2 separate regions of the Homo sapiens genome follow, and region 2 is linked to region 1. The links come from fine-mapping of genetic effects on gene expression. A gene starts in region 1. The other region holds a variant in brackets. All regions are shown on one strand. Distances are from middle to middle.

Region 1 (12,830 bases):
ATAATTTCAGTGATCATAAATGCTACAAAAATAAAAAACAGAAATATAAATGAAGATTAGAAATGGGAAAGTGGGAGTAAGAATGCTATTTTAGATAGGGTGGTCAGGCAAGATTTCTCTGAAGAGGTAACATGTGAGCTGACACCTAAATAATGAACTCAGCCCCGGAGTAAAGACTGTTGTGGCTGGACACACTCTAACAAAGCTGAAAGGCAAGCCTCAAAGTAATGAAACTGATCCACAAGCAAAACAACTGCTTATCAGGACAAAGTCCAACATTCTTTAACTGAATACAACAAAATCCAGCAACCACATGTAAAATTTGCAAGTTTGTCATTCACCCAAAAGTTAATGAACAAGAGTTCTAGTCCTGCTGTGGCAACATAAGTCTTATAAAGGCCTTCTCTCTCACTAATTCCAACTAAACTCTAGATAAAATACAAAAACATAACTATCTGAAGAATTTGAAAAGTAAACAAGAGCAGACTGTAGAGTTAATACTTAGAGAAGCACCCCCACAGGAAGGTGAGTCCAGCCCCTTGTTTGCTCTGGCCTGCTGAATGGCAGGCCTCATGCACAGAGAAGTGTGGTGGTGCAAATGGCTAAATCTCAGATAGAAACTGAGTCTTTTTTTTTTTCTGTTTACTAAAGTTTGGAGTTATTTTTTATTATAAATGTTTGATTCCAAAATGCTTGAGAGTAGCCTTTTCTTTTTCTCTTGAGCAGAATAATTTAGTCACACCACCCTAACAATGATAATATCCTATTTAGTGATTACCTACTATGTGCCAGACCCAGTGCTTGGAAGAGATACAAACATTGATAAGACAGCCTCTGAGATCAAGGCGTTCTCAGTACAGACAGAAAGAAGGAAGGGTTAGGTGATATGATATGGCAAGGGCAACCATGCAGGCATATACAGGATGTCATGGGAGAACATGGTGGGGTGGTCAGTAGTGTAGAGGTTGAGAAATTCTGGCCTAGACTAAGAAATGACAATATGTACACATACAAGAAAACAAACAAAAAAAATTCCTTCTCCAAATCAGAAACCCAGTCTTTCTTAACAGAAGACCCAGGAAAAGGGGTCCTTACAGTGTGGAGGGAATCTGAAGGGAAGAAAGCAACCAGAGAAAGGTATCTCCTAATCCTGTGTATGAGTGCACAAAAGTCTCATCCTAATCCCTGAGCTATGCAAGCAGACACACTCTCAGAGACTATGAAAACTTAACTGAAATTTTAACCAACCCCCCCCCCACCCACACACAAATGTCTCAGCTCAATCCCTGAATTACACATGTGCAAGATAGTCCCAAACCAATACAAGGAAAACTTAAGAGAACTAAACAGGACTTTGAACCATCTATACAAGTCTCAAAACCCCTGAACTACACTGGCATGGGAAAGAACCAAATAAGCATAGCAAAGGCTTACAGATCAGAACTGAGATCTGAATTATCCACAGAAGGGGCACCAGAACTTATTGCTTCAACCTAACTGGATTGATTGCCTGCTAGAAGAAATACACTGACCCAGAATCTACACAGCATAGCATGAATAATGGAAAACCAGGAGTAGGACCAGTTCTCAGGGCAAAAGGCAATCAACAAATGTTAACATCAAGATAACCCAGATGTTAAAACTATCAGACAAGAACTTTAAAGGAGTCATTACAATTATGCTCCATGAGGTAAGGGAAAAGCACACTTGTACTGAATTAAAACCTAAGAATTATTGGCGAAGAAATAACACATTGCTGGGAATGCAAAAGGATATAGCCACTTTAGAAAACAGATACAGTTTCTCATACAGTATATAGTTAGCATATAACCCAATAATACTATTCCTAGGGATTTACCCATGAGAAACAAAAACATGTTCACACAAGGACTTGTACAAAAATATTCATAGGAGCTTTATTTGTTACAGCCCCAAACTGAAAATAATTTAAATGAGCATGAATGGATGGCTAAATGGAGAAATTTTGATCTATTCACATAATGGAATACCTCTCAACAATAAAAAGGAACTACTGATATATGCAACAACATGGATAAATCTCAAGAGTATTATGCTAAATGAAAGAAGACAGAAAACACAAAATGTATGATTCTGTTTTGTGAAATTCTAGAAAAGCCAAATATAGGGGAGGGAACGCAAATCACTGGTTGCCTGGAGCCAGGGGTGAAGCCTGGAAGGAGAGGATCTACTGCAGAGACACAGGAACACTTAGGGGTGATTAAATGTTTTACATCTTGCTTTTGGTAATGTTCTAAACAAAGGAAGCAACATAAAGGGATTAGTATAAATGGGCAATTCAGACCAACTAAGAATATGAGTAGATAATAAGCCTATAGAAGTAATTCTCAATTTTTCTAGCAATCCCAGAAATGCTAGTTAAAGGAGTGAGTTATCTCCTGTTTTCTAATAGCTTGGCAAAATTTAAAAAACAGAAAAGGGTAGCAGGGAAATGTCCACAAAACAGTACTATAAAATTTCTATGCCTATGGGTATAGATATGTGTATATGCAAAGAAGTTCTAGAATGATACACACCAAACTAAGAATGGTGGTTATTTCAAACAGGAAGATTTATTTTAGGATGGTGGCAAAAGACAAAAGAAAAAAAAAAAGATAAAGGCCTTAACTCCAATTTCAGAGTATTTGTGACACATATGTAAATATTTAGTAGAGATATCTTAGAGTTTGAAAGTACAATTCTAAGTATAAATCTTTAAAAATTAAGTATACATCAAGATGTCCACACACATGTTCAGTTGCAAATGAATGACTTTATTAATGAGACTCTTTAGACAATGTACTTCGTTTAAATGAAGATGTACTTCTAACATAATCTGTCCGTTATAACTTGAGTCATACAGTCAATACATTTAAACAAATGACAAGGTAAATCCTTATGTTAAATATAAGATAATCACCACTTTCATTTATTATTTTCTAATATAAAATAGGCTTACCTAAAACAAACCTGAAAAGTTTGAACTCTGCAAGTAGATACAGTTCTCTTTCACAATCTACTAGAATAATCATTCCCTATATTATTCAATCTGACTTTTTAGTTTCCTCATCTTCTTTTTTATCCATTCAAAGTTTTATGCTAAACAAAAACTATATGAATAGGTTCAAACCTGTTAAAAGTGCACACCGATGAAGATCTTCACTTACAAATTTCATGAACATATCCTCATCCTAAAATAAGAATTTAAAAATATTTCTCTTTTAAAAACCAACAGTTTTCAAATCCAGAATTTTTTTACATCTATTTTAGTACTTGGGATTGAGTATATGTCTTTAACCTTTAATAAACGAGAAAATTAAAGGATTATTATCAGCTACTGGTCTCAATGCACCCAACACTTCAAATATCCTGAAACCTTAAAGTTTGCATCTTTCATTCCTCCTCTTCCACTGGGTGTGGTCATAATAATGACTTTATGGAAGGAATAAAGTTTAAAGATTCTTGATAAACCCGGGAAAACTATTTAAATTAAGAATAAAATTGGCCGGGCGTGGCGGCTCATGCCTGTAATCCCAGCACTTTGGGAGGCCAAGGCGGGTGGATCACCTGAGGTCAGAAGTTTGAGACCAGCCTGGCTAACATGGTGAAACCCCGTTTCTACTAAAAATACAAAAAAAATTAGCCAGGCATGGTGGCACATGCCTGTAATCCCAGCTACTCGGGTGGCTGAGGCAGAATCGTTTGAACCCAGGAGGCAGAGGTTGCAGTGAGCCGAGATCGCGCCATTGCACTCCAGCTTGAGCAACAAGAGCGATCTCAAACTCTGGCTCAAGAAAAAAAAAAAAATTAAATTAACAAAAAGAAAAACACAGAAAGCCATAAATCCTTTAAATAGCTAAAGTAAGCTTTAAGAGCTTATTTCGGGACATTAGTTTACATACATAATTTATACTTTAATAAAATTTGAAGGAAATCTCGCAGCCTATGTAGTAGAAAAAGACTAAAGAATTTTAAATACTACGTTTTTCCCCCTTTTTCTTCTTCCATGTCTCTTCCTTTATGACATCAGAGCCACAATAAACTGTTATGGTGATACACAATAAGGTTAGAACACGGTGGTTCTACTATGATTCATACTACGATGTAACACAATCCAATCAGCACATAGAAGAAAATAAGTGGACATCAATCCTAAAACTAAAACCCTACTAATAATTTCATATACAAATTTTAATAAAACCTAGAAGAATCTTAGCTAAAATATTTTCTCAAAAAAAATACAAATATAGTTTCTCTTTCTAGACAGGGCATAGTGTTCCCAGTGATAGCTTAGCTTTTTCAGCCAAATTATTTCCCAACTTCAATGACAATAATTTAAACATCCAATTGATTTTTATATCCAATTGATTTTATAATATTTTAATTGGGGATTTATATAATACAAATTTTATCTCCAAGTAAAATAAAGTTGAGAAAAACATACCGATTCATCTTCATCACTGATTGTTCTGTCTGAATAGTCTTCCTTTTCTGAATCTTCTGACATCTTTTCCAGTGTTTGACTTGAGATTTCTTGTAATATACGGGTAGGCTGTAAAACAATTTCTAAGGAAATTATATGACAGCTTTTCTTTTCAAGCTGTAGGTGTTTACTACATTAAATGAGTACTCAAAAATATATTCAATTGTATTTAACAGTCACAACAGTCTTCTCTAAAAACTAATTAGAATACAACTAATAAAACCTTCAATTTCAAAGAGTTAAAGGAATTTTCCATGACTATACGAGACAACAACCACAATAAGACAAATCAAGCAAATCATTTAATTAAAAGGAATTTCCAGAGTATACAGCCAAATCATTCACATTTTATATTTACAATTAAATACTACACAGCAAGTTCAGAATGATCCTGAGGCATTAAAAGATAATGAATTTAAAAATTATAGTCACTTACTGAAATGTAGCAATATAATTTTAAGTTTTCTCCTTGATTTTCACTTGACCAAAAGTTCAAGTGACAAGACTTTACATTTTGATTATTATTCTGTAGATACTGTCTGTTCTAATATTCATTTATATTATTCTTATTCTTAGAAATCTAAATAGCTACCAGAAGGTTGTATTGGTAATGACCATTACCATTCTATGCAAGTATCTTCCCATGTGGGTAATATCAAGACCAGGGAATAATCGAAATTTCTTGTCAAGTTCCCATCGTTCTTGAGAGACCAAAGGACTCGACAATTTCAAATCTATTAGTTTACGCCCCTCTCTACAGGAAGCGTGTTTTGGAGCGTGGACTACATATAAGTTAAGTCCAAGCTCTATGGCAAATCACTGCCAATGCCACGGAACCGACTGTCTCATAGATGACACCTTCAGTCCTAAGAAACTGAAGTTTCTGCCTGGGCATCACAACTCCACATTTGGAAAATCCGACTGGCCTAAATTCCATTCCTTACAGGTGCACACAGGGCGCACGAAGTGCTGACCTGCTGCGGATACAGCTCTGGTCTCAGGAAACGGCCCTTATCCACCGGCGCTCCGCGGGTGTCTTCCACCACTGCGGAGGAGGGGCAGATGCGGGCGCGTCCACGCTTAGCCGCGTCCCGACAGTACCAAGGCGTTTTTGGCGGGAAGCACGATGAGGCCACAACTCCGGGCGGCCGAGTTCCTTCCCGCACTCACTCCTGGACACCTTGGTGTGGGGAGGCGCTCATTTTCCGGGGCGCGCTCGCTTCCCGCAGGGGGCGCCCCGCCTTACTTCTGCATACCTCACCGTCCTGTCGGGGCCGGCACCTCGCTCCCACGCGAGTCCTCTGGCCAGGCCAGTCGTCGCTTCCGTGCGGGGAGAATATCTCGGGATCTCGCGATCTCGCGGAGAACCCGGTATCCAGCCGCTAGAAGTAACGCCACTGCTGGAGATCCGCAGCCCCAGCCACACTCCCAACTCTCGTCATCAGGCAACGGGTCCGCCCTCGCGAGACTTCGGACAGCCTTCGGAGATCACCTAGCAACCAGCTCGGAGGAAAGGAGCCTGCGTAGGTTTTGGCTCCAGGAAGAGGGATCCCAGAGGATGCCGGGAACTCGGGGTGGGCCGCAGGGCGGTCAGAGAGGCTCTCAGAGAGGCTTTGGGGTCTGTCGGGAGAATTTAGGAGTGGGGAAGACCGGGCAGCTATTTATTCCCAGTGGTCTGCACTTCGGCTGTTGCCTCAGAGGAGGCAGTAGAGCATGCTGGTTAGGACTGTGCTTTGGAGCCCACCTGACTTTTAACAGTGTGACATTGAACAAATTAATTACCTGGACTTCATGGGTACAATACTTGTAACTACTACTTGGAGATGTTAGAATATTAAAAAGTACGTTGGTCTTGATTTTTTACAGACTGAGTTCCATTCTACACAATTGTGCGATTAATTCGCTTATTCGATTCTGGAAAATGAGGCTTTTCTCCTTAAATACTAAATGGAGAGTCATAGATGAACTAGGGTGAATTCTCAAAATTATCAGCTCAGAGATTCTTTATAGCAATCGTCAGCTAGCATATTTAACACTGTTTTCCTGATGACTGCAAATCACTATATGTAGTCTCATTTAGTTAACAGACGTTATTCATGAACATCCCATATTGATTTTTTCCCTCATCTTTAGCTCTACAGGGTAAGGTAATCTATTTGGAAAAGTTTTCCAAGTACAGCTGAAAAAAAGTCTAGATTTTGATGATATAAGAATGTAAATAAACACTTTTCACAAAGCGTTATATGTCATGAGATTCGTGATATTGTAGAAATGGAGATAATAAATGGTAGCAAGTTTGAAAGTAGAATAAAGGGCAAAGCACTATGGCTTAAGCATGGAAATGGGTTAACATAATCTCTTTGTATTTTGTAAGTATCTGAAAATAGGTGTTTTTGAGGTCAGCAGTTTAAAAGTATGAACCTTCCAGATTAGACCTTGGCCAGAGAATATTAATAGAGTATATCTTAGATCAACCTCTTGAAAAGTAGCTCTTATAGTTGAAGCTTGTTTTATGCCATACATAAATCACTAAAGGTGACATGCACAGAGAAATCTTTATTTATGTAATCTGTTTTTCTGTTGGATTTTAGTCATGGCTGCAAGCCATAGGATGTCAGCTGTACAAGGTAAAACTGAGAAATGGTCTAACCAGGTTATATAAGAAATTAATGGCAGGGCTGAGAGACTTAAGTCTCGTGATTTTTAGTCCAAATAGTTATATTATCACATACCAAGTAGTCCATGGGAAGAAAAATGATCTTAATGCATAATTTTAAAAACTTAGGATTTTTTTTTTTTTTTTGAGACAGAATCTCACTTGCTCTGTCGCCCAGGCTGGAGTGCTGTGGTGCAATCTCAGCTCACTGCAACCTCTGCCTTTGGGGTTCAGGTGATTCTCATGCATCCTGACTAGCTGGGACTACAGGCACGTGCCACCACTAATTTTTGTATTTTTTAGTAGAGACGTGGTGTCACCATGTTGGCCAGTGTGGTCTCAAACTCCTGGTGTCAAGTGATCCGTCTACCTCAGCCTCCCAAAGTACTGGGATTACAGGTGTGAGTCACCGTGCCTGGCCAAAAACTTAGGAACTTGGCAAAACTTTGAAAATGATATTCATTCATTATTTTATTAACAACTTTTTTCTTTTTAAAGACAGCTCTGTCACCCAGGTTGGGGTGTAGAGGCACAATCATAGCTCACTGCAGACTCAAACTACTGGTCCCAAGAGATCCTCATGCCTTGGTATAACAAATTCACTGGATGGCTGCTGCCTACTAGGGACAGTTCACTATTGCAAGGAAAAAAACCAGACATTTATTGTGGAGGTTATGTTCTGGTGGGAGTAATCAAACAAACCAATGATGATAATAAAAATGATATCACTCAGACAATAACCGCTATGGAGAGAAATCAAGTAGGGGGGAAAAAAAAGAATAGGGGATGCTGGGAGTGGGGGGCCTTGCTAGGTTACTCTTTTAGATGGAATGGCCAGGGAAGGCCTCTCTGGCTAGGGGGCATTTGAGCAGAGGGATGAACTGTAGGATGTCTTAGGGGGAGACTCTGCCAGGCAGGGTAAGCAGCAAGTACATAGACTGAGAAGTCTGTGTTATGAACTACAGTTGAGCCTTGAACAACTCGGGGGTTAGGGGTATCGTCCTCTACATAGTTGAAAATCTGCATATAACTTTTGACTCCCCAGAAACTTAACTACTGAGAGCCTACTGTTGACTGGAACCCTTACTGATGACATAAACAGTTGATTAGCACATATTTTGTATGTTATATGTGTTATATACTGTATTCTTACAACAAAGTAAGATGAAATGTTATTAAGAAAGTTATAAGGAAGAGAAAGTGTATTCATTAAATGTAAGTCATTCATCATAATGGTCTTCATCCTTGTCTTCACATTGAGTAGGCTGAGGAAGAGGAGGAAGAAGAGGAAGAGGAAGGGTTATTTTATTAACAATTTTTTTCTTTTTAAAGACAGCTCTGTTACCCAGGTTGGAGTGTAGTGGAGTTGCTGTCTCAGGGGTGGCAGAGGTGGAAGAAAATCCCTGTATACTTGGACCTACATAGTTCAGACTCGTATTTTTCAGGGATCAGCTGTATACTAAGCAGTACTGTTTAGCCAAAGCTTAGCTGGAATCAGTATCATTTTAAGGTATGAGATTTCACAGGGATTTTTTTCTTCCCCAAGTAAAATTGAAATGGTTTGATTAAGCTTCTGCTTTTTTTTTTTAACTCTTTCTTTTTAACTTACTCTCCTATTAAAGACAGTACTATGTACTGGAAATGAAATTCTTTGTCTTTAAGTTAATATTGGAAGTAAGGCCTAGAATAAACTTCTACCAAGGACTTTGTCTGAATTTTTGTTCCCCTTCCCTATAATCTCACCAAAGAAAGTTACTGGACATGTTCCTTCTATAGACAGCTTCTGCCTTTTGGGAAGACAGCTTTACCCTTGTGGCAACTTTTTCTCCTTTTTTGTGTGTGTGTGTGAGTTTACTCTAAGACTGCAGTCTAAAAGGCAATATAATAAAAAATAGAGTAAGAAAAGAGGAAAAGACAACCAAAACTCTAAGTGCCAACTGTGCCAAAAAGCACAATTACTTGTGTGGGAATCAGGAAGAAAGTTCGTTTCAGCAGGATGGCCAAAGATAAGTTGTGTTAGGAGTATAATTTTGTGGAATTATATCATTTTGATCAGAATGAAAATAGAGTCATGAAAGTTAAGAAAACTCTGACAAACAGAGCTGGGGAAGGCCATGAAAGAAGAGTCCTCACATTTGTTTGCTTGATAATGAAAAAGACTCCATAACAACCATAACGTTACACAAGGGCCATCATAACCTTACACAAAAGATACTTCTACAAGGACATTGGCTAAGCAACTGCCTGGCTAACCTCAGACTGGCATCACTCTTGTTATTGATCTTTGTGGCTAAGGGTAATCATTTAAAAAACCAGTATGTAATCTTCCTTTTTTTCTTTTAAAAATCTTTATCTTCCTTTACCTCCCTGACTACACACATAGTTTACTATGACATGCATATTCCCATTGCAATGTTCCATTCCCAAATAAACATCTTTTAGAGAGCCTGTCTCTGTTATTTAGGTTGACAATTGAGAGGGGCTTAAATGAGTATATGAAGTGACTAGCGCAATCAGTTACTTATGACATCATAGAACTCAGTAGTCAAGTGACCTTAGAGGTCTTGTAATTCGACTGAGGAAGCCATAGTAGGGCCTGGGAAGCCTGGGATAGTCTAGTAATTATCTTGGCCTTCTTCATACTATCTGGGTCTAGGATGACCTAATACAGGGCCAAACCTCTTAAACTGTTCCCAAGCTCAAATCTTGAGATCTGTCTCAGCCAGTCAACTAGCCAACACTCAGCTTAAGCATCATTCACTTGATGATGTCTTTTCTAATTACTTTGTCATTGGCAGAATTAATTGTCTGTATTTGGGGGCTACAGTGAAGCTATCGTTGCCCTTAGTATTTGGAAATGAGTTAGTAAGAATGCCTCCTGCCTGCTCAACAGATAATAGATAGGATAAATCATCTCAAAAGAGAACGAATGGTTCCGAGACTCAGTGTGAAATCCCATGACAACAAACATGAAATTGTCTTTTTTCCCCCAAAAAACTGCCCTAACTGTGCAATGGTGAAATTCCCTTTCCGGCTGAGGGCATGTTGGCTAGAGTTGGTAACTTTTCAGCTACTAAAACAGTATCATTTTGATATTTGAGATTTGCTTCTGGTATTTGGCATTCGATTTGGCATTAAGAAGTTCATTTTTTTAAATTATACTTCAAGTTCAAGGGTACATGTGCACAACGTGCAGGTTTGTTACACATGTATACCTGTGCCATGTTGATGTGCTGCACCCATTAACTGGTCATTTACAATAGGTATTTCTGTTAATGCCATCTCTCCCTCCTCCCCCCACCCCAGGATAGGCCCCAGTGTGTGATGTTCCCCGCCCAGTGTCCAAGTGTTCTCATTGTTCAATTCCCATCTATGAGTGAGAACATGTGGTGTTCGGTTTTCTGTCCTTGCGATAATTTGCTCAGAATGATGGTTTCCAGCTTCATCCATGTACCCACAAAGGACATGAACTCATTCTTTTTTATGGCTGCATAGTATTCCATGGTGTATATGTGCCATATTTTCTTAATCCAGTCTATCATTGATGGACATCTGGGTTGATTCCAAGTCTTTGCTCTTGTAGATAGTGCCACAATAAACATATGTGTGCATGTGTTTTTATAGTAGCATGATGTATAATCCTTTGGGTGTATACCCAATAATGGGATCTCTGGGTCAAATGGTATTTCTAATTCTAGATCCCTGAGGAATCGCCACATTGACTTCCACAATGGTTGAACTAGTTTACAGTCCCACCAACAGTGTAAAAGTGTTCCTATTTCTCCACATCCTCTCCAGCCCCTGTTGTTTCCTGATTTTTTAATGATCGCCATTCTAACTGGTATGAGATGGTATCTCACTGTGGTTTGATTTGCATTTCTCTGATGACCAGTGATGATGAGCATTTTTTCATGTGTCTGTTGGCTGCGTAAATGTCTTCTTTTGAGAAGTGTCTGTTCATATCCTTCACCCACTTTTTGATGGGGTTGTTTGATTTTTTTCTTATAAATTTGTTTAAGTTCTTTGTAGATTCTGGATATTAGCCCTTTGTCAGATGACTAGATTGCAAAAATTTTCTCCCATTCTGTAGGTTGCCTGTTCACTCTGATGGTAGTTTTTTTCACTTTGCAGAAGCTCTTTAGTTTAATTAGATCCCATTTGTCTATTTTGGCTTTTGTTGCCATTGCTTTTGGTGTTTTAGTCATGAAGTCCTTGCCCATGGCTATGTCCTGAATGGTATTGCCTAGGTTTTCTTTTAGGGTTTTTATGGTTTTAGGTCTGACATTTAAGTATTTAATCCATCTTGAATTAATTTTTGTATAAGGTGTAAGGAAGGGATCCAGTTTCAGATTTCTACATATGGCTAGCCAGTCTTCCCAGCACCATTTATTAAATAGGGAATCCTTTCCTCATTTCTTGTTTTTGTCAGGTTTGTCAAAGATCAGATGGTTGTAGATGTGTGGTATTATTTCTGAGGGCTCTGTTCTGTTCCGTTGGTCTATATCTCTGTTTTGGTACCAGTACCATGCTATTTTGGTTACTGTAGCCTTGTAGTATAGTTTGAAGTCAGGTAGTGTGATGCTTCCAGGTTTGTTCTTTTTGCTTAGGATTGGCTTGGCAATGCAGGCTTTTTTTTAGTTCCATATGACCTTTAAAGTAGTTTTTTCCAATTCTGTGAAGAAAGTCATTGGCAGCTTGATGGGGATGGTATTGAATCTATAAATTACCTTGGGCAGTATGGCCATTTTCATGATATTGATTCTTCCTGTCCATGAGCATGGAATGTTCTTCCATTTGTTAGTGTCCTCTTTTGTTTCGTTGAGCAGTGGTTTGTAGTTTTCCTTGAAGAGGTCGTTCACGTCCCTAGTAGGTTGGATTCCTAGGTATTTTATTCTCTTTGAAGCAATTGTGAATGGGAGTTCACTCACGATTTGGCTCTCTGTTTGTCTGTTATTGCTGTATAAGAATGCTTTTGATTTTTGCACATTGATTTTGTATCCTGAGACTTTGCTGAAGTTGCCTATCAGCTTAAGGAGATTTTGGGCTGAGATGATGGGGTTTTCTAACCATAGAATCACATCATCTGCAAACAGGGACAATTTGACTTCCTCCTTTCCAAACCAAATACCCTTTATTTCCTTCTCCTGCCTAATTGCCCTGGCCAGAACTTCCAACGCTATGTTGAATACCAGTGGTGGCAGAGGGTATCCCTGTCTTGTGCCAGTTTTAAAAGGGAATGCTTCCAGTTTTTGCCCATTCAGTATGATATTGGCTGTGGGTTTGTCATGAATAGCTCTTATTATTTTGAGATACATCCCATCAATACCTAGTTTATTGAGAGTTTTTAGCATGAAATGCTGTTGAATTTTGTCAAAGGCCTTTTCTGCATCTATTGAGGTAATCGTGTGGTTTTTTTTTCTTTGGTTCTATTTATATGATGGATTATGTTTATTGATTTGCATATGTTGAACCAGCCTTGCATCCCAGGGATGAAGCCAGCTTGATCATGGTGGATAAGCTTATTGGTGTACTGCTGGATTCGGTTTGCCAGTATTTTATTGAGAATTTTTGCATCAATGTTAATCAGGGATATTGGTCTAAAATTCTCTTTTTTTCTTGTGTCTCTGCCAGGCTTTCGTATCAGGATGATCTTGGCCTCATAAAATGAATTAG
Region 2 (12,830 bases), 140 kb after region 1:
TTGGTTTTGAATGGAGTTATTCAGGAAAAATGATCTTCCTCCCACATACCACCATCTTGTTTCTCTGCAGAACCCAGAAACTCACTGTGAAATGGCTCCACTCTATCCATCACATGATTCCTCTCCCCACCCTACCCTCCCATGCAAACACAACTTACAGCCAAGCCAAACTCCTGAATCCTGCAATAATTTCACCCTCATTTCTGCCTCTGGGCCTTTGTCTCTGGCTTCTTGCTGCCCATAACCTGAAGTGCCCTCCACTCCTGCAAATCCCCTATATTTTTCTAGAGTCCAGCTCAAGTCCTATCTTTATCCCAGAACCACCCTCCCTTTCAGCTTCTACAGCAATTATTGGCCTTGTTCTTGGTGATCAATACTATATGGCCTTGCTGTTCAAATGTTTTGTACCATCACTTTCTCTTGACCAAGTCTGAAGCTGCTCAGTGTCAAGGCCTACATCTCCTCTGACATCCCCTCACAGTGCTGAGTACTTTGCTGTGCAGTTATTTATGAATGGAAATATTTGCTGAGTTGAACTCATTGAAAAGCTTAAGAATTCTGGCCTGAGACTCCAAGTTCCAAATAATGTCACAGCTGTGATCCTTTGTGCTGTTTGCCCCATATTCTTGTTTTACTTCTTCTGGGCACATTATAGTATTGTGCTTGCCCCTTGTGGTCATCTGGGGCCAAGTGGCTAATTCTGGCCAATGAGTTTTGAGCAGAAGTATCATGTCACTTCTGGGGTAGACTTGCCAATAGGAGACCCTCCAAAGAGCTCTTTTCTCTCCATCATGGTTGGTAAGATTTCCAGACAGTCATTGTCAGTAGGGGTGGCTAAGCATGGATGACAGTGATGTGGACTAGAAACCCTTGCCTATCCAGGGTTAGTGACAAAGCATGAGTGATAAACACACGTTCATTTTGACGTTGCTGAGATTTTGGCTGTTTCTGACACCAGCATAACCTAGCTTGTCATGACTGATAGAGTCTTGGCCAGCTCTGACATTAGGTTGTACTCGTCTCTGTTTCTAAGCAAGTGCTTGCTCAGATTCCTGATTTCCTATTTCCCTTCTGAGACCTCTAGTTTAGAAACAGGGATAGGTAGGTTAACCGGAACACTGTTTGCAGGTAGAGCATCAGGGAGTGGAAGTGACTCATATTTCACTTCCTTATGGGCCCATCTCTTTACTCCAGTGAGCCATAAAACTGCCACTAACTGTTGCAGTGTTCGTGTATTATGGGATCATTCATTTATATCAGGCATGACAAACTCAAATAGCTTAAAGGACCAAAGAGGTAACTATTTGGGGAGTGGTAGCTTATGGGAAAATGGAGAACATATGCATCCCTGCATCCCTATGAGCATTCAGACTCAAAATTTGAAAAAAATGCTTGTATTAGTCTATTCTCACACTGCTAGTAAAGACATACCTGAGACTGGGTAATTTATAAAGGAAAGATGTTTAATTGAATCACAGTTCCACGTGGCTGGGGAGGCCTCACAATCATGGTGGAAGGTGAATGAGGAGCAAAGGGACGTCTTACATGGCAGCAGGCTAGAGAGAGCATGTGTGGGGGAAATCCCCTTTATAAAACCATCAGATCTTGTGAGACTTATTCACTATCATGAGAACAACACAGGGAAAAACCCACTCCCAAGATTCAATTACTTCCCACCTGGTCCCTCCCATGACACATGAGGAATATTACAACTCAAGGTGAGATTTGAGTGGGTACACAAAGCCAAACCACATCAAGGGTGGACAAGGGAAGCACATTTGCAGGGCAGCATGGGCCCTGGGTTGCTGTCTTTCACTGATGGCTGACCATGTGCCATGTTAGGCACTGTGAGGAGTTGCAAGAGTGAACCCACAAGCAATCCCATATAGCTTTCATTCTAGATGGATAAGTTGATTTCTTTCGACAACAGTTATGTAGCACTTACTATGTACCAAGCACAGTTCTAAGAACTGTGATAATATCAGTTTAAATCCTTGTGACAATCCTTATTATTTCCATTTTACAGATGAAAAGACAGAGGCCCAGAGAAGGTGAGTCATTGGCCCAAGGTCACATAGCTAGTAAGTGGTAGAGCTGGGGTCTACATCCAGGCAACTCAGCCCCAGATTGTGTGCTTTTAATCACAACACTCTGTTACATCTCACAAGACCTGTAAATGGATAATACATAGTAGACTGTAGCAAGGACCTCAATGATGAAATGATCACGTGATTGCCTGGAAGGATTTATGTTCTTCTACAAATGCTCTTACTAGGAGCTGTTTCCTGTCAGCAGGAGGCCTTGGCCTGCTTGATGTTAGGTTCCGTTCATATTTGATGTTTATTAATGAAGTAAAAATGAATCTTCTGTTTATGTTCACTTGTGCCTTGGCAAACTGATTTATTATTTCACTTAAGTGGGGTTCACTTTAGAAAATAAGCTGAATTTGTCTTAAAGCCTTAAAAAAATAAATGATCACATTTCACACTTTGACCATTTCTTTGCTTTGCTTACTTAATTAGCTTTAGACACGATGCTAAATCATCTCAGTATATCTGTGTCAGTTTCAGGGCAGATCCAGGTTTTGTGGGACCTGAAGATTATTTGAGAGGCCTTCTTGGAAAACCAGAATACAATAGTAAATGTAAAAAGTTAGGCATGGGGGTGTTGAGGCAGGGACCTCTCCCCATGAGAGGCCCTGCGGCTTAAACTCTACTGACTTCACGGTAAATTGGCTTCTGGTCTCTCATCTTTGATTCTCATGAGCATTTCATAAAAATATCACAGCACCCTTATTTTGCTTTTAAATTCAATTACTATCAGCTCTCCATATCCATGGGTTCTGCATCCATAGATTCAATCAACCAGGGATAGAAAAATATATTTTTAAAAAAAACCAACGCAATTAAAAAAACCATACAACAATAAAAAATATAATAGGAAATACAGTATAACAGTGATTTACATAGCATTTACATTTTATTAGGTGTTAGAGGTAGAGATGATTTAAAGTATACGATAGGATATGCATAGATTATGTGCAAATACTGTGCCATTGTATATCAGGGAACTGAGCATCAGTATATTTTGGTATCCTCGGGAGTCCTGAAACCAATCCCCTATGGATACAGAGGAAGCAGCATACTTGGAACTACATTATAATCTGCTTTTAACAACATTCTATACAAAAGTTAGAATCTAGGAAACAATAATGTAGGGGGCAATTATGCATTACCCTTCAAGTGATTTGCAGAAAAGTAGATTTACAGATATAGCCAGTGCATGCCTGTGTTTTGCCTATAAACCGCATAATAAAGTGTGATAGGTGGATGAGAGGGCAGAGAAATTTAAAATATTATGACCCTTTGCCAAGACGAAGCCAATGAAAAATAAATACAGTATTAGAAATCACAATTTACGTCACTGAACACGTCATTGGATTCACAAAATTTTCCATTGCATTTAATTAAAAAAAAGCCCATTTTATGGTAAGGAATACTAGAATTGCAAATGTAACACAGAACTAATATGGCACGTGAGATGGAGAAGGTCCAATCCAGTGATATCTGTAGAATGAATGAATTAACGACTGACTGAATATGCATATTTAAGGAAGGTGCTAATGGTGGTCACAGGCTTCCCTCATCAACCCCAACTTATAATTGCATTTTAAAATTTATAAACCATTAGCCAATAATGGGAGACAGTTAGCTAGATTCCCGGAGTCTCTCATAATAACAAATGTCTTTATATTTATAATTTTGTAATTCTGTGTGAAATCAGATTCAAAATCATGGTATCATATACTTATGGGAGGAATTCTTTGAGGAACTTGGAGAAAATACTCCTAGAAGAGCTTCTTCATTAGGGCCCAACATGAATGCAGTATGTTTGCATTCATTCTCGTCTGCATCCTGTGGATATGGTGAAATGCTTTCCCCCAAACTCAGGATGCCCCATTCCATGATATATCATATTTGGTCATTAAAGAACAGGATTCATTATTAACATTGGCCTTCTTCACTGCTCTTTAGCAAAGTGTTTTCAGCCAAATATATTAAACTAGTCAACTGCCCTTTTCCCCTGTCAGTAAAACAGCCAGCATCCTGAAATCACAGCTCATTTGTACCACATTGGCGTGAATATTCAGACTTCATTTGTCTCTAGCTCTTAGAGGCTGGTGTTAGAGTGCGTGATGGACATTTTGTTTTGAATTAGCGAAAGGGAGGAGGAAAGAAAAAATCCAAGTTATAAGTTTGGGCTAAAATATGTTTCAGGGAATGCAGCTCTGCCTTTTCCTCTAGGAAACGTCTATTAAAAAAAAATCCAGATTTAATTTGGCATTAAGTTGAGCCTGGGATACAGAGAATAGTAGGAAGGAAAATGTCTTAGGGCTTTTTTTTTTTCCCCAGACTGTTTGTTCTGCTTAAGTCCTATTTGAGTACTGTTGCACGGCGTGGTATGAGATGTTCACAACTTAATCCTGTTAGGCATCCTAAAGCAGAGTTCAGAAGCAATTGAGTCTGTGTCCTGTAACTGTACAAATGCTATTCCAGTTGGAACCTTAGGAAAGGCTTGATAGTTTTTGGTTCAAAGCTAAATAGCACAATCATTCTTTTCTCTTTACTTGTGTACTCACTTGCGCTTATGGGGAAAAAAAGCCTGGAAAGGAGTTCTAGACAAGAGCTCCTGGCACCGTTGTGTGTTTTTCTCCCTGCTGTATCCCCCTTCTCAGCACAGTCTTTCTCTGTCAATGGTCATGCCAGGCAGAAAGGTGTGTTTTCATGGAGGTGCCTCTTAAGACCAGGTGCAATTCCCTGGCCGGGGAAACACGTTTATTTGGGCAAGGTTACTAAAGCTGCACGTGGTGGTGTTGGAATGTCCTCTACCCTCTTTACTATGGAGGTTTCCAGAACGCTGGGAGTCCCATGGGACCTGTGACCTCGTGTCCCCTCAATCCTTAACCAAATCTGGACTATGCCCAGGCTCATTGTGGACTTTTCTTCTCATATCTCATGACAAGGACCCTGAGAGTGGTCTCCTTGAGAGGAGACTCCCAGGGAAGGGAGTGGATTCCAGACCTTCTCCCATATAAGCCTAGTTCTACAGCCACTACTAAAAACCCACAGGAAGGAATCTTAGTTTAAGAAAGATCCCTTCAGATCCTACTATAAAAAGCTTGGGCCCACCTGAACCAAAGGAGACTAAGGACTTTGTCAAGGTTTCCAGGGAGGCTCATTCTGCAAAACTCAAGAAAAGAAGAAGAAAATAAAAACCCAAGCTTCTCTTTCCACTCCATCTGGAGCTTCGACTGACTTCAAAAATACTGGCCCACAGTGGTTATAAAATCTCCCATTCGAAAACAAGGGCAAAGCCTTCGAAGTGCTTACAACTCAAAGCACTTCTTTTACGTGCTCATAGGAAAATGATCTTTCTCTCCAAGCCCACGAGCTGACTGAAATTAATGAAACACAGTCGGGAGGCACCTATGTTGGCCACTGGCCATCATTCATTGGAACACCCCAACTAGACCATTCATGGATTGCAAAGGGTTTCCTCTTGCTTTCAACATTTCTCATTTGATATAATTAGTAATTTGCATAAAATCACTGACCCAAGTGTCACTGACATTTTGGGTACCTTCGAGAAAATGGGCATCTTTTTCCTGGCTACTCCAAGAACACAAAGAGGAAAGTGTGGAAGTGGGTTCTTGAAGAAAGCTGGTATCTCAATGTACATTTAAAACAATTGGGTGAGGAGGGGGAATAAAGAAATGCAGGAGGTGGCTTCCAGATCTCTGATAGCCTCTTCTGCTCATAATCAGAAAATCACCCTGAAGCTCAAGGGTTTCTACTAAGGAAGGAGAACTAAGGGAGAGAGAAGAAACATAAAGCAAGGAGAGAACTTAAAGGAAAAGAAATAACACTTTGGAAAATAAAAGAGAGATGAATAAATACCTTTACCCCTTTTATTTGCATCATGCTAGCAGGGCAAATTAGGGAAATTCAGCCCAGGGGTAAATATGGCTCCGTGAGAAATGACATTTGATGGTGAGGCCTAGAGAGGGGAGGCTGGTAATGACTGTCAGGGGCCATGGCCTGGCCCCTCCACTCTCTGGTCTGGCAGGGAAACCCTAAAATACTGCCAAAGCTTATTCTGGGGAACAGGTGGAGTGGGACAATCAGCAGGGGACAATGGACAAAGGAGGGAGTTCAGGGCAAAAGAGGCACAGCCCTCCACCCCTATCTGGGGCCTTTACTGACTAAACAAGATGATGCTCTGTGACCATAGCGTCACAGCCACCTGACCCTGAAAACGACCTGCCTCTGTCTCTTTGGTCATTAAGGATTCTCATCCTGGCCTCCCCTCCTGTCCATTCTGATCAGCTCTGATTGGCTGATGAAGAAAATGGGCCCAAAGGAAGTTTGTCTAAGATTCCCTGAGCAGGCAGCAGGGGAGTTGGACAATGACCATAGGTGGAGTTAGCTAGAAGGGAGCAAAGGTGGGTAGGAGAAGGCTCACAGGAATGGTTTGGGGCATAGCCCCCAAAAGACAGGACAGAGAAGGAACAAAATAGGTCCAAAAACACTAGGGGAGAAAAAATAGACACACACATTAGCTCATCTACATGTTCTCACACAGCTTCATTAGAAGTATCGTGCAGTGTTCTTCCTCTTGGACGGGTCCTTCTCCTGTTATCTAGCAGGAAAAATTTCCATACACAATTTCTGATGGAATCTTTAAGCCACTGCTCCTCTCCCTCTACACAGTCTTCCTTGGTGGCCTCATTCATTGACACACTGCTGCTTCCTGCCTGTAGGTGGTGACTGTGAACATCTCTGGTTCTCACCTGACCTTCAGACCTGCATATGC[A/G]TTGTTTTCTAGACACATGCCCTTGCATGTCCCACAGGCTTCAAACTCAGTAAGTCCCTCTTGGATCCCCGAACAGTTTTCTTGTGGAAAGGCCACCTTAACTGGGGCATGCTTGTGCTATTTACTATTTCCTACCTCTGGGAGAAAGGTAACTCTCCTGCTATTAGTCAATCACACCTTTCTTTCAATTTTTCTCCTCAGCCTTAACTTATTTCTACCTGTCTTGGGGGGCAGGAAGTGAGGAGAAAGCATCTTTAATACTCATCATTTGGAGACAGTCTTAAAGCAAATAAATTGCAGGTTCAGAGGCTGCATCTAATCCTCTTTCCATTCATTCATTCATTCATTTAATAAATATTACAAAATGTCTACTGTATACAAAACCTCCTCTAGTGCTATGAGAGATGTAAAAGGCACACTCTCTGATTTCAGAATTTATAGAATGTCATAGGGAAATGAGAGCTGTACCCAAATGATTATAATACACTCTAAGAACTGCAGATGCTCTGAGAGTAATGTAATCGCTAAAAGAGTTCAGGAGGGGAGAAACAGAGGGAAGCCCACGTGCAATAAACAAAAAGTCAGCATATTAGAGAGGGAAAATGATGGTGGCAGCATTATGGGCTGAATGGTATTTCCCCCAAATTCATACGTTGAAATCCTAACTTTCAGGATCTCAGAATGTAACCGCATTTGGAGATGAGTTCTTCAAAGAGTGATTAAGTTAAAATGAGGTCTTTAGGGTGGGCCTAATCCAATATGACTGGTGTTTTTACAAGAAGAGGAAATTTGGGCACAGAGAGAAAGACACCAGACAGGTGTGTGCCCGGAGAGAGGACCACGTGAAGACACAGGGAGAAGGTGGCCATCTGCAAGGAGGGCCTCGAGAAATCCACCATGCCAACACTTTGATCTCAGACTTCTACCCTCCAGAATGGTGAGAAAAGAAATCTCTGTTGTTTAAGCCACCCAGTCTGTGGATTTTCACTATGGTAGCCTGAGAAAACTTGCATGGGGGCAACAGATAGAATTTTGAAACAACAATTGCCTGAGTGGTGTGCTGAACTCCTGAAGAACTTTTCTACCTACTGGAGCCAAGCTCAGCAAAACTGTGAATGAGTGAAATGCCCTTTGGTTTCTCCATCCTCTAAAGTGGAAATCCCCTCTTTCACCTCCCTAGGTGGTCCTTGTTCTGGTAGAAGTTTTCCTCCCAGGTGAGAGAGATTTGTTGAAAGTGAGGGGTACTTAGCACTCCTGAGATCACCAGTGTTTGCACAAAGGTGAGCTTATTCACCTTGGAAGGCTGACTCATGTTGTCTTTATTGATTCAAGTCACTAGCATTTTTCACAGGAAGTGAAGACTTCATGATTGATCCAGGACTGTTTTGTGAAAGATATTACATTGCAGGAAACATTTAAAAATAAAGCAAAAAAAAAAAATCAGATTACAAAACAGGATAAAAGACTTGATAGATCCTTCAAAACTTGATAGATTCTAACTGATTAATTAACTGGCAAGTAAAGTAGGAGGGCCACAGCAGAAAAACTGGTTTCTCACAGTGCATCTTCAGATGTAAGAATTTAGAATATCAGGCACAGAGGCTGTGTAATTCCTAAGAGCAGAGCCCAAAGTATTAATAAAACATAAACTTTACTCACAGGTCAGCAATCAGATGTCTGAGCCTTCTGGTTGGTCACCAATCCCTGTGGAATTTGATTTGATGATCTTGAAATGTTCCAATGATACCTGGAATAAAAGGAGGATGGAAACATAATTCAGTTGAATGAATTTTAGCTAATACAGACTATATATTTTCAAATATCATTTCTTCCTCAAGTACTGTTGTTAGTTAGAATCTAAAGGGAGAAGTAAGGCAGGGGTAGAAATAGCTATTGTGCATTTGCATTTTAAGGAAAATACAGTTATCGCAAAGTCCATCCATTTATTCTGAATAAATTATTCTGGAGAAGGAGGTATAGTTAAGACAAACCCAGGGATAGTATCTAATTGCCAAGTTTCTTTTTCACTGCTCCCAATCCCCTCAGTAATTTTATTTCAAAATTTGAGAATGAATAAAGGGAAACTGAAGGAAGAAAATGTTATAAGTGGAAAACTTTTTTGGTCTGTAGTGTCTATGTATGTCCATGAACTACCTTGTTAGTGAGACAAAGACAGAAAGGCTTTCAAGAGAAAACATAAAATGAATGGCAGAGTCACTAACAGTGGAGTTTGTCTTCAGATAATCTCTTTCCTTTCTATTTTCAGATTTAGGGTCTAAGGGCCAGAGAGTTGCTAAAGCTCTTACTCCCTGTTTAAGATCTTTCTCTCCCATCAGTTACCTCGCAACTTCAAATAGACGCCCGGGTGAACCATTCCTCCCTTGAGCCCTTTAAGCCATAGCTTTTAATGCAGTGCCCGACACACAGATGCTGGCTGCCCTGGCTCAGAAGCAGTTGCCAAAGGTCTCTGCAGGGAAAGCTGAGTCTAGACCGGAGGTAGTAAGGAAGGAAAAGGCCCAAGATGAAGGAAGACGGGAAGGGAGCTGGGCCCTGTTAGGCAAATGAGCCTGTCTTCCTCCCCGAGTCCCCATTGCAGCCAGTGGCAAACAGCCAGGCACTAGTTATTGCTCCTTTGATTTAACCATCTCCTCGGGCATGGGGAGAAATGAGTTTTATATGAAAACATTTACTATAGGAGAACCAAGGTGTAATAAAAAGAAAGAAGTAATTTCTTCCCTCTTGATCAGATTTCTAGTCCCCTAAGAATAGTGATTTTCTTAGAACCCCCAGGAAACCTCTAGCTAAAGTCATTCAGTAGCATGAAAAACTGTAACTAGCACCTTTCTAGATTAAACAAATAGAAAAACATTGCTAGCATATATTTACAGGAGATGGTTAATATCCTAATTTAAAATTTCTACTGCAAGTATTCTCAGAAAGATGGCATTTTCCAAATGGATACTAAGAGCAGAGGGTGAGATGATAACTTATTTCAACAGAGAATCATTGCAAAGGTTAAATTAGGGATCCTTTACAAAAATAAATAATTGTAAATAACTAACAAGAAGACCCAGATTTTCATTAATTTAAAATTTTATCTTACATGGTTGAATTAGGGTCTCTGATTTCAACATTACCATTTTTATAAAACAATTCCTCTGTGACTTTTTCATAATATGATTTGCTTTCATTATGGAAATAATAATAATAACTATTGTTTGTTAAGTATTTTTCAGTGGTAGGCCCTGTGCTAAGCACATTGCACACATTATTTCATTTGATGACTGTAACAACCTTGTAAAATACATATTCTTATCTTAGGATAAGCACTGAGAAGTTTCTTGGCTGAAGTCATTTGCCTGAATTCACCCAGCTAGTGGTGAGGCCAGTATTCAAAGCCAGGGCCTGACCCACCATGCTGGGTGTATTTGGTGGATACAGGAGCCCACTTGCTTGTTCACTGAGTGAGTCCTCTGCTTCAGGACACAGCACAAGGTGATGTACAAGGGCTCTGCTTCCATGGAGCTTATACTCTGCTGGAGTTCAGACACCATACATTTCTGATAGTGAGTGAGCAAATAAAAAACAGCAGGATGTAAAGAGGTCCACTGAGGGTCCCTGGAGGTTGGATGGTGAGGGATAGTCTCTCTGAAAAGGAGACATCTAGGCTAAAAACACATTTCTAGGAAGAAGCCCCCCCATGTAAAGATCTGAAGGAAGCATGTTCCAGGCAGAGCCCTTGAGAAGCCTGGTGTGAGGCTTTTATGAGATGGCTGTGTGCTCTGGGATCATGAAACTTCCAAGTTACTCAGTCCATGTGGGATTCAGGCTCATATGTCTGTTCGTAGAGTACACAATGCTGAAAGATGTGCTGGACACAGGGTCTTACCAAAAAACGATCCCCACAGGGCTGCCTTTGCTGGAAAGCATGAGGATCTGTCCCTGCCCAGAGATGAAAGTGCCAAAGAAGCACATGATCACCTTTGTATCCAGTGCCCAGAGGGATGGAGGTTCCCCACTCCCTTTTTTGCTAGGTAGACTTCAAGAGAGCTGTGTTCTACAGGCTTGCACGAGCTCCTTTCATACATTAGAGGATAAGGCAGATCATTTCTTAATAACAGACAGAAAAATGAAAAGCTACAGGACATAATCCTTAAAATGGGAAAGGAATGGCAAGTACCTATTTCAATCATAGTTGGCAGGAAGTCACATAATTTGTGGGGATGGAAATTAAAATAAAATATTTAAAAATAGATCGATGGGTTTTAGTTAGAATGAGCTAGTAATAATAACACATTATTAATTGTCTCTGCTTTACATTTATAGTTAAACATGGGAGCTAGGAGTATGTTAGAAGAAAAGAAATATATGATCTTAGGGAATTTGGGTCATTTAAATAAATACTAACAAGTGAATTGACCTTGTACGAGTCATTTAACCACTCAATTTCTTCATCTATAAAATGAAGCATTTGGAATAGATTTGCCACAGTACTCAATTCAGATGATTTATTTCTACCATCTTTCCACGAAAAAAATGTATTGTGTATGTGAATGACCTTGATATCATTTTGAATAAAACAAGTTCAACCAAGTTCCCCCTTTTCAGCATCTAACAGGGTGCTCAGAGAAGAGTGTTGCTTTTCAAGTCCACCTATCCCGACTCCTTCTCTATTATTTCTAAGAGATGAGTGCATTTTATAACTCTAAGAGAAATTATAATATATTACATAATAATATCTATTATTTATTGAATACCTACTATTTGCGAGGTATTTGATATCTGTTCTTTCATTTAATCTTCACAAGAAAACTGTGAAACTAGTTGTTTTTTATTATCCCCACTTGGAAGTAAGATTCATTGTCACACAGTTAATAAATGACAAGTTAGAATTAAAACCCAGGTTTGTTTTATTCCAAAGCTCCTTCCATGACAGGATACATGGAGCAGCCATAGCTGCCAACACTGACATTTTCTTTTACCTTTTTGAGTTCTACACAACATTTTTCTTTAAATGTTTTGGAGGAGATTGTTGATGAGTTTGTGGAATGTAGCTAGACTGACGTAGGTATCTGCCTAAATGGAATAGCTTGTGGCAGTCCAGTGCTTTCATTGAGAATAACTAGAAACTCTGGATAATATTCCACAAAACCAAAATTAATTTGGAGGCATTAGGACACTTGGAGAGTTCAGCCACGGAGAAGGAGCAAACCAGAGGTTGAAGGAGTCTTGCAAAATGGAAGATGAGTTGTAGATCAGCTCAGCCCCATTTAACTGAAGAGAACTTTCCCAACTCTATCAAAACAACCAGAAGGTAAGACAACCCCTGTCTGTAGAAAAGTAACATCATCCCGCACCTAAATGAATATCTATATGGAAAAAGGAAAATCAAAACTTGACCTCTATTTAGCATCATTCCCCCAAATTCTTTCAGATTGATTGTGGATCTAAATGTGAAAACTTACACATTTGCGCTTTCAGGAAAAAGAAAATCTCCATGATTTTGGGATAGGCAAAGATTTTGTAAATGGGACATAAAAATAAAAAAACTTGTGTTGCATTAAAACTAAAAACCATAAAAAGAGTGGAGATGCTAGCCATAGATTGAGAAAATATTAGCAATATGGATGACAAAGAACTTGTATCCAGAATATATAAAAATTTCCACACATCAAAAAGAAAAAGATGGATGATCTAATAGAGAAATGAGTAATGATTTCAACAGGCATTTCACAAAAGAGGATATTTAAAATTGCCAACAACTAAAAAATAAATCAGCCAGGTGTGGTGGTGCATGCCTGTAGTCTCAGCTACATGGGGGGCTAAGGTGGGAGGATCTCTTGAGCCAGGGAAGTCAAGGCCACAGTAAGCCATGATCGTGACACTGCACTCCAGCCTGGGGACAGAGAGAGACCTTGTCTCAAAACAAAAACAAAAAGACAAAAAGATCAACAAGT

Which allele goes with the higher level. Positions count from the first base shown, and alleles are read on the strand shown. Sizes are in standard deviations (SD) of each study's normalised expression.
As copies of G replace A in region 2, the expression in gastroesophageal junction of the gene that starts at base 5,951 in region 1 goes down (small effect, 0.20 SD a copy in GTEx).

The links. PIP is the estimated chance that this variant, and not a neighbour inherited with it, causes the effect.
Region 2: its variant is the best candidate, but not a certain one, in a credible set for the expression of AGBL3 in gastroesophageal junction (GTEx, PIP 0.73).

What each region holds. Positions count from the first base shown.
Region 1 is chr7:134,979,629-134,992,458 of GRCh38, reverse strand. It overlaps AGBL3 (AGBL carboxypeptidase 3), which reads right to left and starts at 5,951. Exons shown (of 17, transcript NM_178563.4): 1 at 5,758-5,951; 2 at 4,463-4,584; 3 at 3,149-3,209. The coding sequence starts at 4,525. RefSeq lists enhancers at 961-1,010, 5,260-5,519, 5,600-5,739, 5,750-6,049.
Region 2 is chr7:134,839,674-134,852,503 of GRCh38, reverse strand. CALD1 (caldesmon 1) reads right to left here. Exons shown (of 15, transcript NM_033138.4): 2 at 8,533-8,620. It overlaps LOC124901750 (a long non-coding RNA gene), which reads left to right and starts at 8,620. Exons shown (of 2, transcript XR_007060537.1): 1 at 8,620-12,830. RefSeq lists an enhancer at 6,300-7,499. The variant A/G (reference allele first, on the strand shown) is at 6,874.